Linked DNA regions of Homo sapiens. The protein of the gene in region 1 purifies or fractionates together with the protein of each later gene. This does not show direct contact. Each region holds a gene or a part of one and is shown on either strand. Other genes may lie near its edges.

Evidence for each region. Proteins that work in one complex are often made in the same cells at the same time.
Region 2: the proteins of SLC6A11 (region 1) and EI24 purify together in Homo sapiens (affinity purification with mass spectrometry; one large-scale study listed by BioGRID and IntAct). This does not show direct contact.

The regions. Positions count from the first base shown.
Region 1 is NC_000003.12:10,814,631-10,818,380, reverse strand, and holds the start of SLC6A11 (sodium- and chloride-dependent GABA transporter 3), read right to left. Parts: upstream 2,154-3,750; 5' UTR 2,116-2,153; coding exon 1,860-2,115; intron 1-1,859. UniProt on the Homo sapiens protein: Mediates sodium- and chloride-dependent transport of gamma-aminobutyric acid (GABA). Can also mediate transport of beta-alanine and to a lower extent that of taurine and hypotaurine.
Region 2 is NC_000011.10:125,575,886-125,579,535, reverse strand, and holds part of EI24 (etoposide-induced protein 2.4 homolog), read right to left. Parts: intron 3,282-3,650; coding exon 3,221-3,281; intron 2,033-3,220; coding exon 1,966-2,032; intron 1,801-1,965; exon of another isoform or gene 1,630-1,800; intron 1,404-1,629; coding exon 1,279-1,403; intron 588-1,278; coding exon 468-587; intron 1-467. UniProt on the Homo sapiens protein: Acts as a negative growth regulator via p53-mediated apoptosis pathway. Regulates formation of degradative autolysosomes during autophagy.

The DNA of each region.
Region 1 (3,750 bases):
GCAAAAAGTGTGGAAAAGGAGATAAGAGGATCTGTTTACTGAATCGAAATCTAAGTGATTAAAATCAGCTGCAGCAGGTCCCCTAACATGCTGTTATTTACCTGTGAAACCTCTAGAATCTAACGTATGACACTTTCAGAAAGCCTTTTGACCTGTGTATTCACAAAGCTACTAACCCTTAGGACAATAAACTCTACCAAACCAGGAGATCTATGAATCTCAAGAAAACTCTTGGCTAGTCAGAAAAAAAAAATGACTCATTTAAAAAACTTTACTCACTACAACCTTTTTTTTTAAAAAAAAAAAAAAAAATCTGTGACAGAATTTGTAATTAACCCAATTTACCGTGTTTTCTGCTTTTATGAATGCTTTTTGTTTTGGCACAACAATTTCCTGTATGGAAAAAAAAGATGTTAAAACAATTTGTGCCTGGGGACTACCCTAGGTGTGCACAGGTTTCCAAGTGGACGCAGCTTACAAACGCTGTATCTGCAGAGAGGCAGGATTCACAGCCGAGAGCACAGGGCACGTTGGGGGTCTCCAAGTCCACTCCCTCTCTCTCCCTTGCCAAGCCGCCAACACCAGCGGCCACTTCATTACCAGTGCAGAGCAGGCTTGGAGCAGCCTGTGCCTTCAGGATGAATGTCCCCAAAGAAAGGGCCTGGGCCAAGCAGTACCCTTCTCCCTCTCCCGGCAGCTGCTCGCACAGGAAGTCCTGCTCTGCACAGACTCATAGCCCGGTCCCTGCCAGCCAACTTCTGAGCCACCTTCGCTGGGGTTTGGGAATTTGCTGGAGGGGCAGGGGCACAGCAAAGAGAAGAGAGAATATACAGATACAGGCTCTTCCTTCGAGAAATTGTGCCACCGAAGGAGGTTTTATAAGATCCCTTGCCATGGACCCGCCCAGCTGTCCTGCCGATATGACAGGAGGGGGTCCTGAAGGCTGGAGCCCCTTCCCTGAGCTGGGAGAGTTACGGATTCGCTGCTGCATCTTTTGCCAAACTGACTTTGAGAGGCTGTCACCAGAAAGGACTCTCTCATCACTGTCCTTTCCCTCTCCCCTTCTACATCTCTATGCAGAGCATCAACATTAAACCAGTATTGCTGTTTGTCGTGGGTGACTCTCAGACCCGTAAAATAAACTGTTCGTTGTCAATTCTTCCACCAGAGGGGCCCCAAATATTGGCCCTAGAAATGGGCTTAAGAGCAGACGAAAGACTAGGCAGGAAACCATAGAGCAATGCCTCGCCTAAAAGTTCTCCCTGTTGTGAGTCCAGTCCCAGTTTAAAATAGGGCCTTTGACATCAGAATCTCATCTTTATTTTTGGTCGAGTGAGACTTCTCTGACCCTCAGTGTCCTCACCTGCAAAATGGGTAGACCCCTGCCTACGAAAGTGACTGAGAGGATGAGATGAGATGATATGGTCAAAGGTGCTCGGCACTTCAGTAAGCGCGCAAAAACTGAGACCACTTTGATCATCAGGAGTCCCTTCCCCACAGGCCGTTTTCCCAGTTAGGAAAGCTGAGGCTCCAAGGGGCCAAGTGCCCGAAACACCAGGGCGCCTACCCAAAGCAAGGGCTCCCTGGCCTCGGTCTGCATCTCATGCTGGGGACAGAACGCGGGCAAGTCCCCGCGCTGGCAGGTGGAACCCTCAGGTGCGAATTGGCACGTGCGCGTGCGCACTGGCACAGGTGGGCCGCGCTCCGGGGCGAGCTCACACGCGAGGTGCCTGGAGTCGAGGTTCTCCGCTCGGGTTCCGCTCCACGCAGGCGCGGGAGGGGGTCTCGCGCTCGCCCCTGGCTCCCCGCCCCCACCGGGCGGTTGGCGCCCCCTCCCCTTCTCCTCACTATCACCTCACCTCCTCCGTTCTTGTAGCACAGGTAGGGGAAGCGCCACACGTTGCCCAGCCCAATGATCTCCCCGGCCACGCTCAGCACGAACTCCACCTTGTTGTTCCAGTGGCCGCGCTCGTGGACCGCCTTGTCGCGCTTGACGCGCGGGTGGCGCGCGGGCGCCGCGCCCCCGCTGCTGCAGCCGCCACCCGGCGCCTCGGACTCCCGCGCCTCCTCAGCAGCCTTCCCATTGCCCAGGGGCAGCGCCTTCTCCGCCGTCATGGCCGCGCTGGCTGCCTCGTGCGCCGGCCCGGCTCTGCGCCGCCGCCCCGGGCGAGCTGGCTTTTCAGGAGGCGCGAGCGGGCGGGAGGGGGAGGCAGGGGGTGGAGCTGAGGGACCGGGCCAGACCAGCGCGGAGACTGGGACTGGGACGCGCCGCGGAGGCCCGGCCCGCAGGGCGCCCACGCCACCTCAGCCCGGCTGGGCCCGGGAGCCCGCGAGCACCTTGAGCGCGCGGAGCCCCTGCAGCGCCCGTCCTTCCCGCGGCCCTGCCCACTGGCCTGCTGGGCCAAGAGTGGAAGCGCCCATTCCGGCCTAGGCCGGCTCCACTCACCAAACCCCAAAGTTCTACCACCGTCCATAACCTTCAAATGCTTGGGCCTCGGTTTCCTGTTTCTAATAAGAGGAATGGGCTCTAGACCAGACTTCTCCAACTTGAACTACACACCAGACACCTGCGGGTCTTGTTTAAACTACACATCACGGTCTAGTAGGTCGCAGTAGGCTGAAGAGCCTGCGTGTCTGACTACCTCCCCAGGGACGCTGATATGTCTGGTCCAGGGACCACACCTTGAGGAAAAGGCAGTAAATGAATTCGTGGCTTCTTCCCAGCCCTAGACACTCTGCAGGTCTTGTTCATACTGGTGTCCGCAGCTCTCAACATAGTCAGGACCGTGTGGCAGTTAAGTGCTTGCGTCTGGAAACAGGTGAATCTAAGTTGTGTGATTTTGGCCAGTCATCTGATCCCTCTGTGCCTCAGTTTCCTGATCTGCAAAAGGTAATATCAGTAGTATCTTGTAAGTTTTAATGTAGGGGATGGATTTTTAGGTAAAAGGTTATTAAGAAATGCTTATAAAGGTCTTGATACCTTGAAAGTGCCCAATGAACATTACCCATTGTTAGTATTATACAATATGTAGACCTACACACATTTGTCCATCTTCTTGTATAATATTTGTCTCCTCACTTAGTTGTAAGGATGATATACACTGTCCTGTTCATTATAATAGCAACATAACCTAGCACAAGACTTGGTGCATAGTATGTGCTCAATAAATGTTTGTGGCTAGAGAGGAAGGGAGGAAGGTAGGAAGAGGAAAAGGGGAAGAAGGAAAGACTATTAAGCTGCTGGGGGCCACAGAGATGAACACTTCCACCTCTTCCATTGCACAGGCCTGGAAAAGTCCAGCCACATTGAGCCCCCACCAACCCTACTCTCCATCTGTCCCTCGGAGCTCCCTCTGGAGCTCTCTTAGGGACAGGCTCCTTGCTTTGAAGCCTTCAAACTCCTGCCTTCCGCTTCTCCTTTCATTCTGGCTCACAACTGCTCAAGTCGCTCCCAACCTCCATCTCCCCAGAAAGCCCTTCCTTCCACCATCTTCCCGTTTCCCCTCCCCCCACTATCATATTTCTTGAAAGAGTAAGTTGACAGGCTGCCAGCCCTGTCTTTACCTCCCACACGTTCCTTGGCCCACAGCAATCTGGCACCCACCCCCACCACTCCTCTGAAAATGCTGTGAAGTCCCGGACGCCCTCTCAATTTGGCAAATTCTACGGTTCCTTTTCCATCCCTATCCTGCCTGGCCTCTAGGTAACTTTCTGCACCATTGCTCCCTCCTTTGCTTCTTAAAATTCCCA
Region 2 (3,650 bases), on another chromosome or scaffold:
TGCCACCACGCGCAGCTAATTTTTGTATTTTTAGTAGAGATGGGGTTTCACCATGTTGGCCAGGCTGGTCTCAAATGCCTGACCTTAGGTGATCCGCCCACCTCGGCCTCCCAAAGTGCTGGGATCACAGGCATGAACTACTGCGCCCAGCCGACCCGTCTGTCTCTTTAAAAAAAAAAAAAAATTAGGCATAACTATAAAAAGAAAAAAAGTTTCCACCTGGCAGGACTGGAGAATAACCAGAGTAGCAGAAAAAAGCAGGTAAATTCATGTTTCTTATAATTTTATAATGTAATTTTAAAATTCTCATTTCCGTGGGGAAAAAAAGATTTAAAAATCATTACCTCCCACCAGCATATATATAATACTCTGTATAAATATAATACTCTGTCTTTGTGAAGTTCTCTCTAGTGAAACAGTTTTTCTTTTTAATAAAGCTGCCCATATGCCCAGAAGGTCAGTCTCACCTGAATGAGGAAAAGAGCCTGCAGCAAAAGGTTGAAGAGCATGTCAGCAATTATTTTGCTGACACTAGGGAATGGGTGAGGCTTCCTCCCTGATACCTCAAATGCCAGGTCAGCTATATCCTGTAACAGAGAAAGTGTACCAAAACATGAATTAAATGGCCTTGATATACATCCCCAAAGCTAAGGCCACTAGTCCGCCACTAGAGCTGCCAGTTAAGAAAAGGCTTATTTAAAAATAAGCTGGGCACGATGGCATGTGCCTATAGTCCCAGCTACTCAGGAGGCTAAGGTAGGAGGATTGCTGCCTTATGCCGTGGCTCACGCCTATAATCCCAGCACTTTGGGAGGCCGAGGCAGGCAGATCAGCAGGTCAGGAGTTTGAGACCAGCCTGGCCAACATGGTGAAACCCTGTCACTAATAAAAATACAAAAAAAATTAGCCAGGCATGGTGGCACGTGCCTGTAGTCCCAGCTACTTGGAAGGCTGAAGCAGGAGAATTGCTTGAACCCGGGAGGCAAAGGTTGCAGTGCACTCCAGCCTGGGCGACAGAGTGAGACTGTCTCAAAAAAAAAAAAAAAAAAAAAAAAGCCAAAACGAAAAAGAAAAGGCACCAGACACCTGCCAATGAGATGCTGAGACAATAATTCCATTCTGTAAGAACACAAAGATCAGCTACTGGCTACCTGGCCAAGAAACATTAAGGCTGAAAAACAGGTCCCCCTACATGCCCACTAACTTCACAGGCTGAAACTTGTCACCTGTCAGCCAATCATGCTGCGGGACCCAGACTCCATTCTGCCCTGGACCTACCTGAAACCAAATGGCATTCACCACTTTGCTAAGCACAAACAAGGGGAGCACCCAAAGAGCACTGAAAATTGACGTGAGGAAGAATTCCAGCCACGACCAAACATCTCCATGTAGTGATGGGTCACCTAAGAAAGAGGAAACGAGTTACTAGAAATGGAGAAATGGAAATCCAGAAGACCAAATGCGGAACCCCCATCTCGTGACTATTCTCTGTCTCCTCCTGGATCTTTCTAGTTCTTGCCAGCACATCACTATACCTATCTCAAAGAGTCTAACTCATAATAGACGCACCACATTCTGGCCACAATTCCAATTCAAAGAAACCATAGATATGTGCTGCTTGACACAAACCTGCTTACATGATGGTAACGAGATGCCACAGTGATTACCAGTACGCTATCTGCAGGATACCATCTGGGTTTAAATCTCAGCTTTGCCTCTTACTAATGGTTTAACCTTGGTAACTTGCATTTCCTCATTCATAAAATGGATAGAACAACAGTACCCATTCTTAAAGGGCCTCTAGGAGAATAACGAAATATAAATTTTTAAAAAGAATAAAACAACAAAAAAGAAAATAAACAGTGAAAGCTCCTGGTACACAGGAAATGTTCAGTAAACTGAGGGAGACTGAAACATCATCTCCCACTCTGTCCCCAACAGACAAGGAGCAGGGTATACACTTACCGATAATTCGGGCTGTTACCGACTGAAGCACAGGAATAAATACTCGATAAAACAAGAGGAGACTGAACTAAAGAAAAGAAGCAACAAGGCAAACATCAAAATCCAGTCTTTAAAACAGGAGCTTCAATTTTTAGTGTAATGATTTTATAGATGGGAGTGACTTTTATAAATCAGGAGGCCTAGGCCGGGCGCGGTGGCTCATGCGCGGTGGTTCACTTTGAGAGGCCAAGGCAGGCAGATCACTTGAGGTCAGGAGTTCGAGACCAGCCTGGCCAAGATGGTGAAACCCCGTCTCTACTAAAAATACAACAATTGGTCGGGTGTGGTGGTGCATGCCTGTAATCCCAGCTACTGGGAAGGCTGAGGCAGGAGAATCGCTTGAACCCGGGAGGCAGAGGTTGCAGTGAGCCAAGATCATGCCACTGCACTCCAGCCTGAGCAACAGAGCGAGCCTCCATCTCAAATAAATACATAAATAAATAAATAAAATAAATCAGGAGGCCTGAAAAAGCACCAAAACTGGATCCATTTCTATTTCCCAACACTCCAATTGAGAGATACAAACTTGATATTGCCTATAAAACAATGAAACTTTTGGGGGCATACAGGAACATTTCAAGTAGTATTCAGGCCAAAATACAGGCATGTACTAAGTACACAGGAATACATATTAATTAAATTTAAAACTAACATCTGAAAACATCTGTGAATTGTTTAGATTAAGAAGTGATGAATTACTCTAAATTCTAAGTCAAAGGAAATATTTATCCATTCTTCAAAGTACCCAAATTTCAGTTAAGCCTGCACTGGGATTCTCAGTAAATGGTAGGCAATCTTTTCTGCTATAGGTTTCAATGCAAATTAACTCTTGTTGATCACTATAAGCAGAAGCAGGGAGAACCTTGTTCTTGTCTAGCCGTATCTGCCCTTCCCGAGTCCCCATAGTTGCTGTTAGCATTTTAAAATGTCTAGACAGTGTCAAGAGAAACTGCTACCTCTAATACTTGTGAATGAGTCATTTTAGAAACAAAATTCAAGTGTATATTCAGGGCTGTGACGTTTGCTTACATATAAGTGTGCTTTCCTGAGTGGGAATAAAATCTCTGCAGATGCACAGACTCCTGAGTTATATTTCTAAGTGTACATCAGCAGATGAAAACTATTTGTCTCAGTGTTTCAAGAAAACAGTTCATAGCTATCAACCCAGCAACAATCTGAAGATGCTTATAAGGCACCTGGAATTTAAAGAACTTACCCAGAACACTCCACCATTCCAAGCACAACACTGGAAAATTCTACTAACAATACGTGGCTCACTGGAAAAGATCACATGTATTTAGTTTATAAAGCATAAGTTATTTCCTAATTGTCATTCAGTAGTTCATTTTATATCTTATCTTTTGTGGGTACTGTATTATTTTTCAGTGCCTCATGTTCTCCCAATGTTCTAATGTCAGTCAATGAGAAAAGACTAAAAAAATGGTCAAGCGCAGTGGCTCACGGCTGTAATCCTAACACTTTGGGAGGCCGTGGTAGGCGATCAACTGAGGTCAGGAGTTCGAGACCAGCCTGGCCAACATGGCAAAACCCTGTCTCCACTAAAGAATATAAAAAATTAGCCAGGCGTGGTGGTGCGCACCTGTACTTCCAGCCAGCCGGTTCGCTGAGGCAGAAGAATTGCTTGG